Homo sapiens: one gene and its partners. The protein of the gene in region 1 purifies or fractionates together with the protein of each later gene. This does not show direct contact. Each region holds a gene or a part of one and is shown on either strand. Other genes may lie near its edges. The genes, in order: LIPC, MTMR1 and LMF1.

Evidence for each region.
Region 2: the proteins of LIPC (region 1) and MTMR1 purify together in Homo sapiens (affinity purification with mass spectrometry; 2 studies listed by BioGRID and IntAct, with this or other methods). This does not show direct contact.
Region 3: the proteins of LIPC (region 1) and LMF1 purify together in Homo sapiens (affinity purification with western blotting, with the first as the bait; one study listed by BioGRID). This does not show direct contact.

Annotation. Positions count from the first base shown.
Region 1 is NC_000015.10:58,430,502-58,434,852, reverse strand, and holds the start of LIPC (hepatic triacylglycerol lipase precursor), read right to left. Parts: upstream 2,863-4,351; 5' UTR 2,821-2,862; coding exon 2,733-2,820; intron 1-2,732. UniProt on the Homo sapiens protein: Catalyzes the hydrolysis of triglycerides and phospholipids present in circulating plasma lipoproteins, including chylomicrons, intermediate density lipoproteins (IDL), low density lipoproteins (LDL) of large size and high density lipoproteins (HDL), releasing free fatty acids (FFA) and smaller lipoprotein particles.
Region 2 is NC_000023.11:150,727,896-150,731,542, reverse strand, and holds part of MTMR1 (phosphatidylinositol-3-phosphate phosphatase MTMR1), read right to left. Parts: intron 1,435-3,647; coding exon 1,333-1,434; intron 1,019-1,332; coding exon 935-1,018; intron 74-934; coding exon 1-73. UniProt on the Homo sapiens protein: Lipid phosphatase that specifically dephosphorylates the D-3 position of phosphatidylinositol 3-phosphate, generating phosphatidylinositol. Could also dephosphorylate phosphatidylinositol 3,5-bisphosphate to produce phosphatidylinositol 5-phosphate.
Region 3 is NC_000016.10:869,933-873,579, forward strand, and holds part of LMF1 (lipase maturation factor 1), read right to left. Parts: intron 1,410-3,647; coding exon 1,229-1,409; intron 951-1,228; coding exon 797-950; intron 135-796; coding exon 1-134. UniProt on the Homo sapiens protein: Involved in the maturation of specific proteins in the endoplasmic reticulum. Required for maturation and transport of active lipoprotein lipase (LPL) through the secretory pathway. Each LMF1 molecule chaperones 50 or more molecules of LPL.

The DNA of each region.
Region 1 (4,351 bases):
TGGGGTGGAGGGGAGGGAGAAGGTGCCTGTTGATAGTGGGCCCAGTACCGGGAAGGTGGGACTTGCCAGGGTCTAGGAGCAGCGTTGGCTCTCATGGCAACACCGACTGGGGAACCTGGGTCTCAGGCATTGGGGCTGGGCATAAGTGTGATGTGCCATGTGGGCTTCAAGCAGCTCACGCTATCCAGTCCCCCTTAGTGCTGAAGGGCAGGAACAACTGTCTAAATCTCCCTCTCTGTGAGAGGAACTGAGCAGAATGTTTTTCTAGAAACCTCTGGCTGTCAAATCACTGGGTGTGGGCTCGACACAGAGCACTGCGGCCTCAGTAGACAGATTGAGGCTGCAGGTACCTCTCCCTGCTCTGCCCTGACCAGCTATGCGACCGCCGGCAAGGCACTTAACTGCCAGCTTACTCAACCATATGGTGAGGATGAGATAAAATGTCCGTGGAGTGCCTGGCACATGCTGGGTGTGCAGCACATTAGTGACTCCATTAGTAAGATGTCATTAATAATAAATACTCAAAAGAAGTAGGCTGGGAGGAGGGGCTAAAGAGGAAGGGTCCTTGAGGGAGTACTTCCTGGTGCTCGATGAGTGACAGTTGAAGCTTGGCATAGATCATGGTTTCTCAGCCTCTGCACTAATAATGTTTTGGGCCAGACAATTCATTGTTGTGAGGGCTGTCCTGTGCATTGTAGGATGTGAAGCAGCTTCCCTGGCCTCTACCCACTAGATGCTGGAAGGGAAGCACTCTCTCCCTGGTCTTAACAACCAAAAACCAAAAATGTCTCCAGACATTGCCAAGTGTCCCCTGGAGGGCAAAATTGCCCCTGTTGAGAACCATTGGTGTAGAAACTTTCCTGACAAGGGCTCCACCACAGGACACCGGCTTCCCTGCGGTTTCCCCAGAAAGACATCATACCAGCCACATGCACACAGATTGGGCTCACTCATTGCAGAAAGAATTCTGCCAAGAGATTCTGCTTCCAAGAGAACAAGAGGCCTCCTGACTTGGATCCTCTTTTCTGAGGAACCCTCTTGCTAATAGTGGCCACTTCTCTCAGCATTTGCACAAACTAGGCCCCGGGGAAAGAAGCAGGCTGATCAGGACAATGAGATTGCTCAAGGAAAATCTGGACAATACCCAGAAGCCTGGGGGAGGCCATCCCTCCCTTCAACCTCTATCTCAGCACTGACAGCTTCCAATTCCCATGGCTCCATTGCAAAAACAGTCCTGGCCAATCCACAGTAGAATGGATAAAGGAAGTGTGGCATGGTCCCGCAGTGGAATGCTACAGCAGTGAGAATGAATGAGCCTCAACTCCACGAAACTGCATGGTTGACTTTCACAAACATAATGTCGAACGAAAGAAGCCAGACGCAAAAGAGCAACTGATGTGTTTCTATTAATGAAAAATCTCCCCAAAGGAAAAAATCATATATGTTAAGGCTCAAGGGGCACACAAGGAAGGCTTTGGGGTACTGGTTCAGTTTGTGAGAACTCATTGAGGATTTATGATAGAGGCCCTTTTCTAGAAGTGTGTTATAAACTTCATTAAAAAGTAAACAAACAAATACAACATTCCGGGGCAAAGGGCAGGAAAGGCCCTTTAGCAAAATCACTATGAACCAAGGGAATAAAGATTACCAGCAATTTTACCTGTATGGCTCTAAATTATTATGTAAGGGTCATTTTTGGATGTGGCTTTATAAATGAGATGATGTGTCAAAAATAATTAGTATAGTGCTTGGCACAGAAAATACTTAGTGAATGGCAATAATTAATACTGCTACTCAGTTATTAACTGGCCTATGAAGTAAAATAGTCAAATACAAAGGAACAGCCTTTTTCTTAAAGGGGAAAAAAGCTTCTGAAATTTTTAGGTACATCCCGTTAGGGAATTTCTAATTCTCAAAGTTGTCGGAGCTCTCTCCAAGGCTAGTCTTAGAGAAAAGAAAAATCTCAGACTCTACCTTAGCGTTACTAGCTCCTGACCAGTAACCAGTACCAAAACAAATTCCCAAACACCTGTCTAGTCTGGCCAAATTGTTCAATTAACTGATCCGTCATTTATTGGTCCACTGCTTAGCCTGGAAGCTGGGCTCCACTCTACTACCTTCCTGATAAGGCATTTGATCTGTCTTTCGCCATCAATCTAGTTTGTGAATTTACAAACAAAACAGGCAGGACGGCTGTTGGATTCTTCAGCCTCAGACTAAAATTTTGGCAGCAAAACAAAGTCTAGAAATTGTGCAATGATATCTCTACTTTAGACCTGACTGGAAATAGAACTCTCATAAATTCCCCTCTCTTCTGAGAGAGGCAGGCAATTAGACAACCCCAACCCGACAGAGCATTTCATTGCAAGCCTGGCTCCCCGGTTGCAAATTAGATGCCACATTAACTCTCAGGAAGATCTGAATCGCTTTCATATCATTTGCCGCTGAATAACTTTTAGCATGACTGTTTCCATATCAGATACGCAAGAGACTTCACTGCTAGCTGCAGGCACTCTTAGAAGACTTTTAATCCGAGGATGATTTTCTAAAATTTCATTTCTGTTTACAAACGGCTACGTGTCCCTGTGAACCTGTGAGGTCGTGTATAGAACCACCTGGCACGCTCTGAAGCAAGCTCTGTCCCATACAGTCAGAAACCCCTGGATTCTTTGTGACACACGTTTTAAAAAGAAAAGTTCATGCCCATCTCTGGAGAAAAGTCAGGCTCTTACCTGGTTTCAGGCTTTGTCCAAGGGCACTTGATTGGATAAAGATGCATAAAACCAACAGAATGGAGAAACACAGGGGACTTGTGTCCATTTCTCCGTTTCACCCGGGGTCCAGGCTTTCTTGGTAATTTCTGAAGCCAAAGAGACCACAATGCCTATTAGATACTTTGTTAGGGAAGACTGCCCATTAATAATTAACCTCTCAACATGTTATCCACTGTTCAGACCCTTTCTTTACTGCCCCCAACTGCAAATCTAATTATATCTATTTTAAAAAGGTCGATTTACAGAAGTGCTTCTTATCCTGACACATTTTGAGAATAAAATACCTTGTTATGTATTCTTACCTTTTGGGGCCAAGGTCAGAGTTCCAAATTAATCAACTTAAAGCTACTGTGTTGTGTTTGGAAATTCTGCCAAAGGTCGGGGTAGGTGGCTTCCACGTGGCTGCCTAAGCCTCCCTGTGACAGCGCTGCAAGGGGGATGCTGGCTCAGGAAAGTGGTGTTTCAAATTGCAGCCTAAGCCCAAAGAAAAAGAAAAGGGCCCTGCCACGCAGAGAGCCCCCAGAGGGTCCAAATTTCTGTTGGGTTCAGTGAAATTGGTGATGCTTGTGGTCAAAGTGTGGTGCAGAAAACCCTTCACCCCCGTGTCAAAAGGAGCTGACGAAGAAGCAAAGATGCCCTTGCCAAGTGACCCATTGAGAGGTGATCCTAGAGTAAACACACTTCTTCCCCCTCTGTGTTCATTAATGTTCCAGCTGTGTAGAGGACTGAAAAGTAAGGCCACTCAGCAAAATCAGGTAGGGAAAAGGCGACCATAGATGGCTTTTGTGATATTTTTGGACCTCTAGTTTTACTTTAACTTTCTTCATTTGTTCAACATTTATATATTTTGGTATGCCTACTAGGTGCCAAGCACTGTTGCAGGCACGTGGGGTATACAAGTCCTTATGTATCAGTGGAGGTTCTTACCTTCTGGAGTTGGATAACGGACAGTAGACATAATAAAGAAGAGATTTCTGGCCAGGAGCGGTGGCTCACTCCTGTAATCACAGCACTTTGGGAGGCGAGGAGGGCGGATCACGAGGTCAGGAGTTCGAGACCAGCCTGACCAACATGGTGAAACCCCATCTGTACTAAAAATACAAAAGTTAGCTGGGCGTGGAGGTGAGTGCCTGTAATCCCAGCTACTCAGGAAGCTGAGGCAGGAGAATCGCTTGAACCTGGGAGGCGGAGGTTGCAGTGAACTGAGATCGCGCCATTGTACTCCAGCCTGGGCGACACAGAGAGACTCCGTCTCAAAAAAAAAAAAAAAAAAATTAGGTAGACTGGTAGAATGTAATGGGAACCACTACAAGAAAAGCAGGGGGTTGGGGAGAAGGTAGGGATTTTAAGCAGAGTGGTTAGAGTGAATTGCATTGGGAAGTTAAACTTTCAGCAAAGGTTTGAAGGAAGTGAAGGAGTTGCCCCTGTGGACGTCTTGGGGAGGAGAGCTTCGGGCAGTCTGTGCAAAGGCCCTGAGGTAGGAGTATGCCTGGTGTGCTCCAGGAATAGCAAGGAGGCCAATGAATGGGGAGACATTGTAAGGACTTTGACTTTTATGCATTGACACATGGGGGGCG
Region 2 (3,647 bases), on another chromosome or scaffold:
TGGCAGGGTAGGTGTCACAGAACTCATAATTACTGTTTATTTTGGATATTTTCCAACTCTCATTTGGCAAGCCCTGTAAGGTGTTGGAGAAAGAAGAAGAGGGTGAAATGCATGACTTTACACTTTGAAAAAGTACTAAGCATGAAGTACATCCATTTCTTATTTGCAACTAAAATCCGTTTATAATTTATTGTTTATTGTAACTTAAAAGTCAATATATATATTTATTCGGTAAAACCCATTTCCTAGACATTTCTAAAAATCTAAAGAAGCATAAGAATATCCAAACCATACTAAAACATGAAAATTATACGCTAGAATCACATTTCTATATATTTCTTGTCCTATTTTCTATAAATAATGAGCTCTGTTATTTTTGAGAATATACTCAAAAGTCCTTTAGAAACACAGATACCTCTTACGAATGTCTAAAATAAGTAACGTAAAACATTATACCAAATATAAGGTAGAGACAACGTCATGAAACAAACGTCATGAAAATAAGATCTTAGTGGAATAATTTGAAGCTGACAATGCACTGAAGAGTTCCCAGACCCGGGAACACTGGATCAGACAGATGTAGTCACACCACATGCTTCGAATCTAACTGTAGTCAGTGGTTTGGATCCTTACTCATCAATTCTTTACCAGAACATCTAATAAAAACCATCTGGCAAATTTGGTTTTTAAACCCGTCCTTGTCCTTGAGTCCCACTCACCCTCTGGAAACAGGATGAACAAACATGACAAAGTCTAAGGTTTGGCACAGGGAGAAGAGAGAATCAAGGAAAGATGGAGAACCTATAAGCTAGCAGTTAAACCTGTGCATAACTTGTTCGAAAAAGTTTCTTCTCCACCACATCATTTCTAACCTTTTAGAAGAGAAAAAGATGCTCAACCTATTATTTTCAGTTTGATAAGCAATATACTTTACCTGTCTCTTATATTCAGATACTGGATCATAAACTTTCCAGCCATTAATTGGAAATTTTTCTTTATAGCTGAATGCAAATAGTGCCTGGACACAAAAACCACAAAACACATATGTTACTATTTCTTTTTATATCATATACCCAATATTAAAGCTTTTCATTCTAATATGAGCTGAGTGTATTAAGATTCCTATTTTAGTCTGTAAATTTTACAGCAACAAAGTAGCAGCTTTTCTTAAGCATTACCCAGAACTGACAAATTTCAAATATTCTAATATTAGTCACCAACAGAGGAAAAAAGAGAGGAAAAAAAAAAACCTCTGGAAAAAGGAATAATTAAACATAGGATATTTGGACCCCCACAAATGCATGCAGAAAAGGTTTACTCTGGTGTATTTACCTGTCCGTTAGAAAGAGGAAATGCATGTTTGTTGAGGTTTTCAAATATCCCTAGTTTACTCTGTTCTTCCTGTTTATAAGCAAGCCGCAAGTTCCTCATATCCTGTTAAACAATTAGCAAAACTCGGTTATTCAACATACATCAGGCACCTATAAGCCAGATACCGTGCCATAAATAAGGAAATTATTTTTTTTTAATTCATTTCTCCTTTTATACTTTATCCTGCTCCAACGGCACAGTCTCCACTCATTGCAACCTCCGCCTCCCTGGTTCAAGCAATTCTCCTGCCTCAGCCTCCCGAGTAGCTGGGATTACAGGCACCCACCACCACTACCGGCTAATTTTTGCATTTTTAGTAGAGACAAGGTTTCACTATGTTGGTCAGGCTGGTCTCAAACTCCTGACCTCACGTAATCCAACTGCCTCGGCCTTCCAAAGTGCTGGGATTACAGGCATGAGCCACTGCGCCTGGCCCCACTTATGTTTTCAAAGAAGGACTATACATACATTCTCATGTGCATAGGCTATCTGTGGAGGGTTACATTAGAAATCGGCCACAGTGGGTGCCTGAAATGAGTGGAACAGGGTGGCAGGGTGGTGGGTGGAAGGAGACTGATTTTTTACTATACACAGCTTTTGTATCTTTTGAATTGTATATCACCTGTTAAAAAATAAACCCCACACCTTGTAAAGCTCTTAGGCATGATCTGAGAAGGCTGGGAGCATTACCTTAGTAATCTAGGTTAGAGAACATTTAAAGCAGTTGTTAGCAAATGCTCACCCCAGCCATAAAAATATCTTAGTAAAAGAGCCCCAGGATGCCTGCCTAAGCAACATAATTTCCTGACATGCCCTCCCTCTAAGCTACATGGCTACACACATACACCTTGGTGGCTGACTGAGCTGACTTGCTATTTAAGATTGCTTACAAGCTAAGGAAAGAGCACATGCAAAGATTCTGGGATGTGTGTGTGTGTGTGTGTGTGTGTGTGGGTGGGTGTGTCAAGTATGAACCACCAAAGGAAAGCCCATGTGACTGGGATGGCCAGAATGAGAGGAGGGCAGTTCGAGACCAAGCTGCAGAGGAAAGTGGGTCAGGCAGAGCAGTCTTGTAAGGAGAGTTTTTCTTTTAGTCTAAGGATAATGGGAAGATACTCAAGCGTCATGAGAAAGGGGACGACATGTTTCAAAATTGCAGAACCGATCAAGTCACCCCTCTGCTTGCCATTGTTCCATATGGGGAACCCTGCCTGAGAAGGACAGTTGTCAGGGAGTGACTAAAGTGAGTTTAGTAAGCCAACAGATTCATGATCTGGAAGAGTAAAGGGTTCTTTGGAAAAAAAAAAAATGGTTTTGAACGCAGTCTAGGACCAACCAGAGGGAGCTATCTTCAGAGATTGAATCAAAATAAATAGATTGTAAGGAATCCTAACCCAAAATTTGGAAGGGGCGCTGATGATCCTGCAGGCAGGATCTCTTTTCTGGTACTTCAGGTAGGGTTTTTGGTAAACATTACCAAAGTCAAGTCACTGGGAATAAAATACATCAATTAGGAGTGGGTCCTACATGACTTCGTGATTAAAGTTATCACACACATTTCTACTTAAATTATTAGAAGAAGGGTACAAAATAAACAAATAAGCCCAGCTCAACATAAAAATTCCAAGATAGCCAAGAAACTTAATCTCATTTTTAATCACAGAATTTATGGGCCACTGCTGTCCCTTTAGGAAGTCTCTGACCATCCACATTGTTCTGAACGTAGTCTTAAAACAACAAACTGGGGAAATGTATTGGTCTCTGCTTTTCACTTGACTTCTCTGAGATGTGACAAACAATCACTTAGGTTATAGGTCCACGTTAATTAGAAATACAGTCAGCCCTTCCTATCCATGGGTTCCACATTGGAGGATTCGAACAACTGCAGATGGAAAATATTTTTTAAAAGGATGGTTGCATTTGTGCTGAACATGCACAGACATTTTTTCTTGTCATTATTCCCTAAACAATACAGTATAACAACTATTTACATAGTGTTTACACTGTATTAGTTATTATAAGCAATATACAGATGATTTAAAGTATATGGGAGAATGTTCTTAGGTTATATGCAAATACTACATCATTTGACATAAAGGACTTGGACATCCATGGATTTGGGTATCTGAGGCAGAGGTCCTGGAATCAATCCCCCACCGATACCAAGGGACAATTGGACTTCGATGGAAAAGGTTTACTTCAAAGGGTTACATAATAGTTTAAATTCGATATGAGATTTGAAGAGGTTGCTATCCCGAAAACATTTGAGTTACTAG
Region 3 (3,647 bases), on another chromosome or scaffold:
AGATGAGGCAGGGCCGTCTGCTGGGGTCACCTGGCTTGCACTTGAACTCGTAGTCCTCCCACATGGCATCGGGGGCGCTGGCGTTGGAGCTGGCTGTGCCCTGCAGGATCACCTCCGCCCGCTCCTTGGTGATGCTGCCGGGAGACCGAGGCAGGCCAGGCCCACGTCACACACCGGCTGGGCCGAGTGGGGTGCATGGGTGGGGGGGGTTCCCCGACTGTCCATCCTGGCCCAGGGGGAGGGCTACAGCCTCCACCTGCCTCCTGGTCAGGGGCTACTGAGAGGCTGGGTGGGGCTGAGGAGAACTTTTGGGAACTGTGGCCCCAGGGTCTCATTCGAGAACACCTTCTCTGCCCGTGAAGACCCAGCTGCAGCCGCCATGTGCCCCATGCCCCTCGGCAGCTCAGGGTGGACATGAGGGGGACAGAGGCCAAGGGGCTGGCCCCAGGACAGGGAGGGTGCCTGTGTTCAGGTGGCACTACCTGGCATTCCCACGCAGGGGGTTGGGGCCTGGTGGCCTCTCCCTTACGCCCCCAGTAGGCATTCCAGGGCCGCAGCCCACCTGCCTGGTGACCTCGGGCCCTGCCCCTTTGCCTCATGGGACCAGGACGAGGAGGCCTGCGTGTCCAGGCCCGGTAGTGGGGACAGCACGGCCTGTGCCTGGGTCAGGCTGGGGTGGGGCAGGGGACACTTGGGGTCATGGGGGCCTGCACTGTAACCCCACCTGAATGTGGCTGGTCAGGGCTGAGTCTCCCCATATACCCAGCTCCGGGGGACGGGGACCCCAGGCTCATACCTTCCGAAGGCCCCGTAAGTGTTGACGATGTGAAGAGAGTTGAAGTGGGTGTTCATGACCTGCCTGGAGCTCAGCAAGTTGAGGACCACGGGCACGCTGAGCCAGGCCAGCAGGACGCCCAGCGAGACGTTGGCTGCACGCCGCACCACGGAGCCTGGCAGGGGAGTGACATCTTCCAGGTGGGGCTCCCAGCTGCCCCGTGGCCTGTCCCTGGGGAGACCCCAGCTGCTGCTCCCTAAGGGTCAGCTGTCCTGGGTCCCGGGGACGGAGCAGCACCCGAACTCACACACCTTGTTCCTGGCACGCTACACTGCGGACGGCGCTGACTCTCCTCCTACCCTGGCGTCCCCAACCCACACGGGCAGGCTGTGGGGCTGGCACCACCCGACTTTCTCCTGCCCTTGGGCAGGGGCCCCCAGCTGAGCCACCTACCGAATCTGGGCTCGGGCCGGGCCCCTCGGATGTCCCTCTGCATCTGCAGAACTCGGTCCTTCAGGCTGCCTGGCCCAGAGGGGAACAAGAATCCCAGGGTGGCGTCATCAAAGCAGGCCAGGCTGGGCACCATAGTCAGCCAGTTCAGGAAGCTGAGGTTCCCGCTGACGATGAGGACGGCCTGTGGAGACGCCGCAGCTGAGTCTCGTGCAGGGGCTCGTGTGGGGCCCCTGGGCAGCTGGCGCCTCTCTTCCTGGAGCAGGGAGGGGGGAGGGAACCTGCACCCAGCTCTGCCCTTGCTGTCCCTCGGGCCCAGCATCACAACTGAAACCCAGCTGTGCCTTCATGGAGGGGACAGCAGATGCCTCAGAGGTGCCTTCCGGCAGGTGCTTCCAGAACATTCCTCCCATGACTGCACATTTCTGTGCAGGTTCTGTCCCTTGCTTTAGTGATCCGCAAGGCGGGGGCTGGACCAGACCACCAGACCCTGTGCCCTCCTGGAACTCCTCACTTTCAGAGGGCACCTGCCGGGGTCATGCCCGGGGAAGGCTGGTGAGTCCAAACAGAGGAGGCTGTGCTTGGAGAGTGGGTACTGGGGACGCCCCTCAGCCGATGGGTGACACAGACAACAGGGGCCGTGGGGGGGCCACCAGTAACGCCCCCACTCCAAAATACGAAATGCAAGGAAGTGAGACACAGGCACAGGACCCTGTGCCACAGAGATGAACAGCAGGAGAGGGGAGGGGCTGCATGCAGGGCTGGCTGAGCAGCACGGCTGGGAGAGCTCCAAGGAAAGACTCAGCAGCAGCAGTGAGTAAACCTGCGGCAGGAGGGACTCAGAGGGACCCGCTTCTGGACATCCCCGCAGGCCAGCGATCGTTAGGTGACGAAACTGGAGATGGAGCCGCTGTCCCTGCAGCTCCGTCGGGTGATATCACAGGTGTGCTGCCAGACCTCACCCCTGCCGTTGCCGTGGAGGCATCAGGGAGACAGGGGCAGCTTGCGTGGCCGGTCGCCCTGCATGGGTGATGGTCTGCAGCTGAGCCGGTGGACCCTGGGCCGGCAGGACCTGGGTGTGGCTTCCTCAGACAGCTCCGTCAGCCAGATTTGATGCATCAAAGCCCAGCCTTTATCCCCGTAACTCAGGAGGAAGGTTGAGGGCAGGGACATCGACGTCTAATGAAGGGACTCGTGAGGGCAGCCACATCAGTGTTATGGGCGATGATGGTGTTTTATGAACTGTGCACTCATGGCTCTCCCTGGGTGAATTGGGAAAAATAGCTTTTCTGGTTCTGAGCCCCAAAACAGTTATTTCTTATTCTCCACTGTCTACAAGGTTACTAAACCCCTGTGCCAAAAACAGCCCCGCCTCGCCCTGGCTGGGGTTAGCCACCTCTGCCACCAGCTCCCCTCCGCTGGTCCAGACCCCCATGCCCTCCGTCCTGAGTGTGACCAGGGCTGGTCTGGGGTGGGGTGGCTGGGAGCCCCTGAGCTCCCGTGACAGGGAGGGTGCAGGGCTAGGCACTGAGGTCTGACCTTTGGGCCCACTCTTGGGGATGCTCTGGAGGAGATGCCACAGGTGACACTGGAATGTCCTGGTGGGAAAAGCTCGGGTCTTTCTGGCCCTTCGCTGTGGTCAGCCTGACTGGCAGATGGGACCAAAGCGACCTGGGGCACAGCCTGAGCCAGTGCCCGTTCGGATGCTCGGCCATGCCAGAACCATCAGGAGCTTTGAGGAACACCCAGCCCTGAGCACCTGCCTGCCTGGGTCAGGGTGGGCCCTGCCTGAGTGTATTTCCAAAGCCCCCTTGGGTCATCCTGCTGTGGGCTCAGTGGGGAACTCTAGCCTCAGGGAACTAGGGCTCCAGAGAGCACAGATCTGGGCATCAGATCCTGTTTCTAAGAAAGCTTCGGGGCTCGGGGCCCTGCTCCATGCAGAGGCATCCCCAGCTGCGCCCCGTTCAGCTGCTCTGGTGCATCTCTCGCCCTCCATCTGGTCGGCTGTTTTGTTATGAAAACGCAGTTCCGCGTAGAGTGCACGGCCTGAGCGCTCCTGGGGGACCTCGCCTTCCTTGTTTTTCTTCTAGCATCACTGAGCCATCTCCTCAGAGGGAAATCAGTCTTCTCACTGCCCATCTGTGCTCGCCCCCGCCGGCGGAGTCCTCACAAGGCTGTGCGGCCCACAGATGACCCGGCCGGTGGCTGGGAGCGGAGGCGAGGCCCGAGGGGGTCCCCAAGGCCGGCACAGGAAGAGGAGCTTGAGGTGATGGAATCCTGGGCCCAAGAGACGGAGCAGCAGGTGTTCCGAGGCCAACGGCGCATGGCCCCAAGAAGGAAGAGTGGCATCTTTGGATGCAGCCTCCTGCCTGTCAGCTGCCACGGAGAACAGGTGGCTTGTGGGGACCCTCTGCCGAGGACA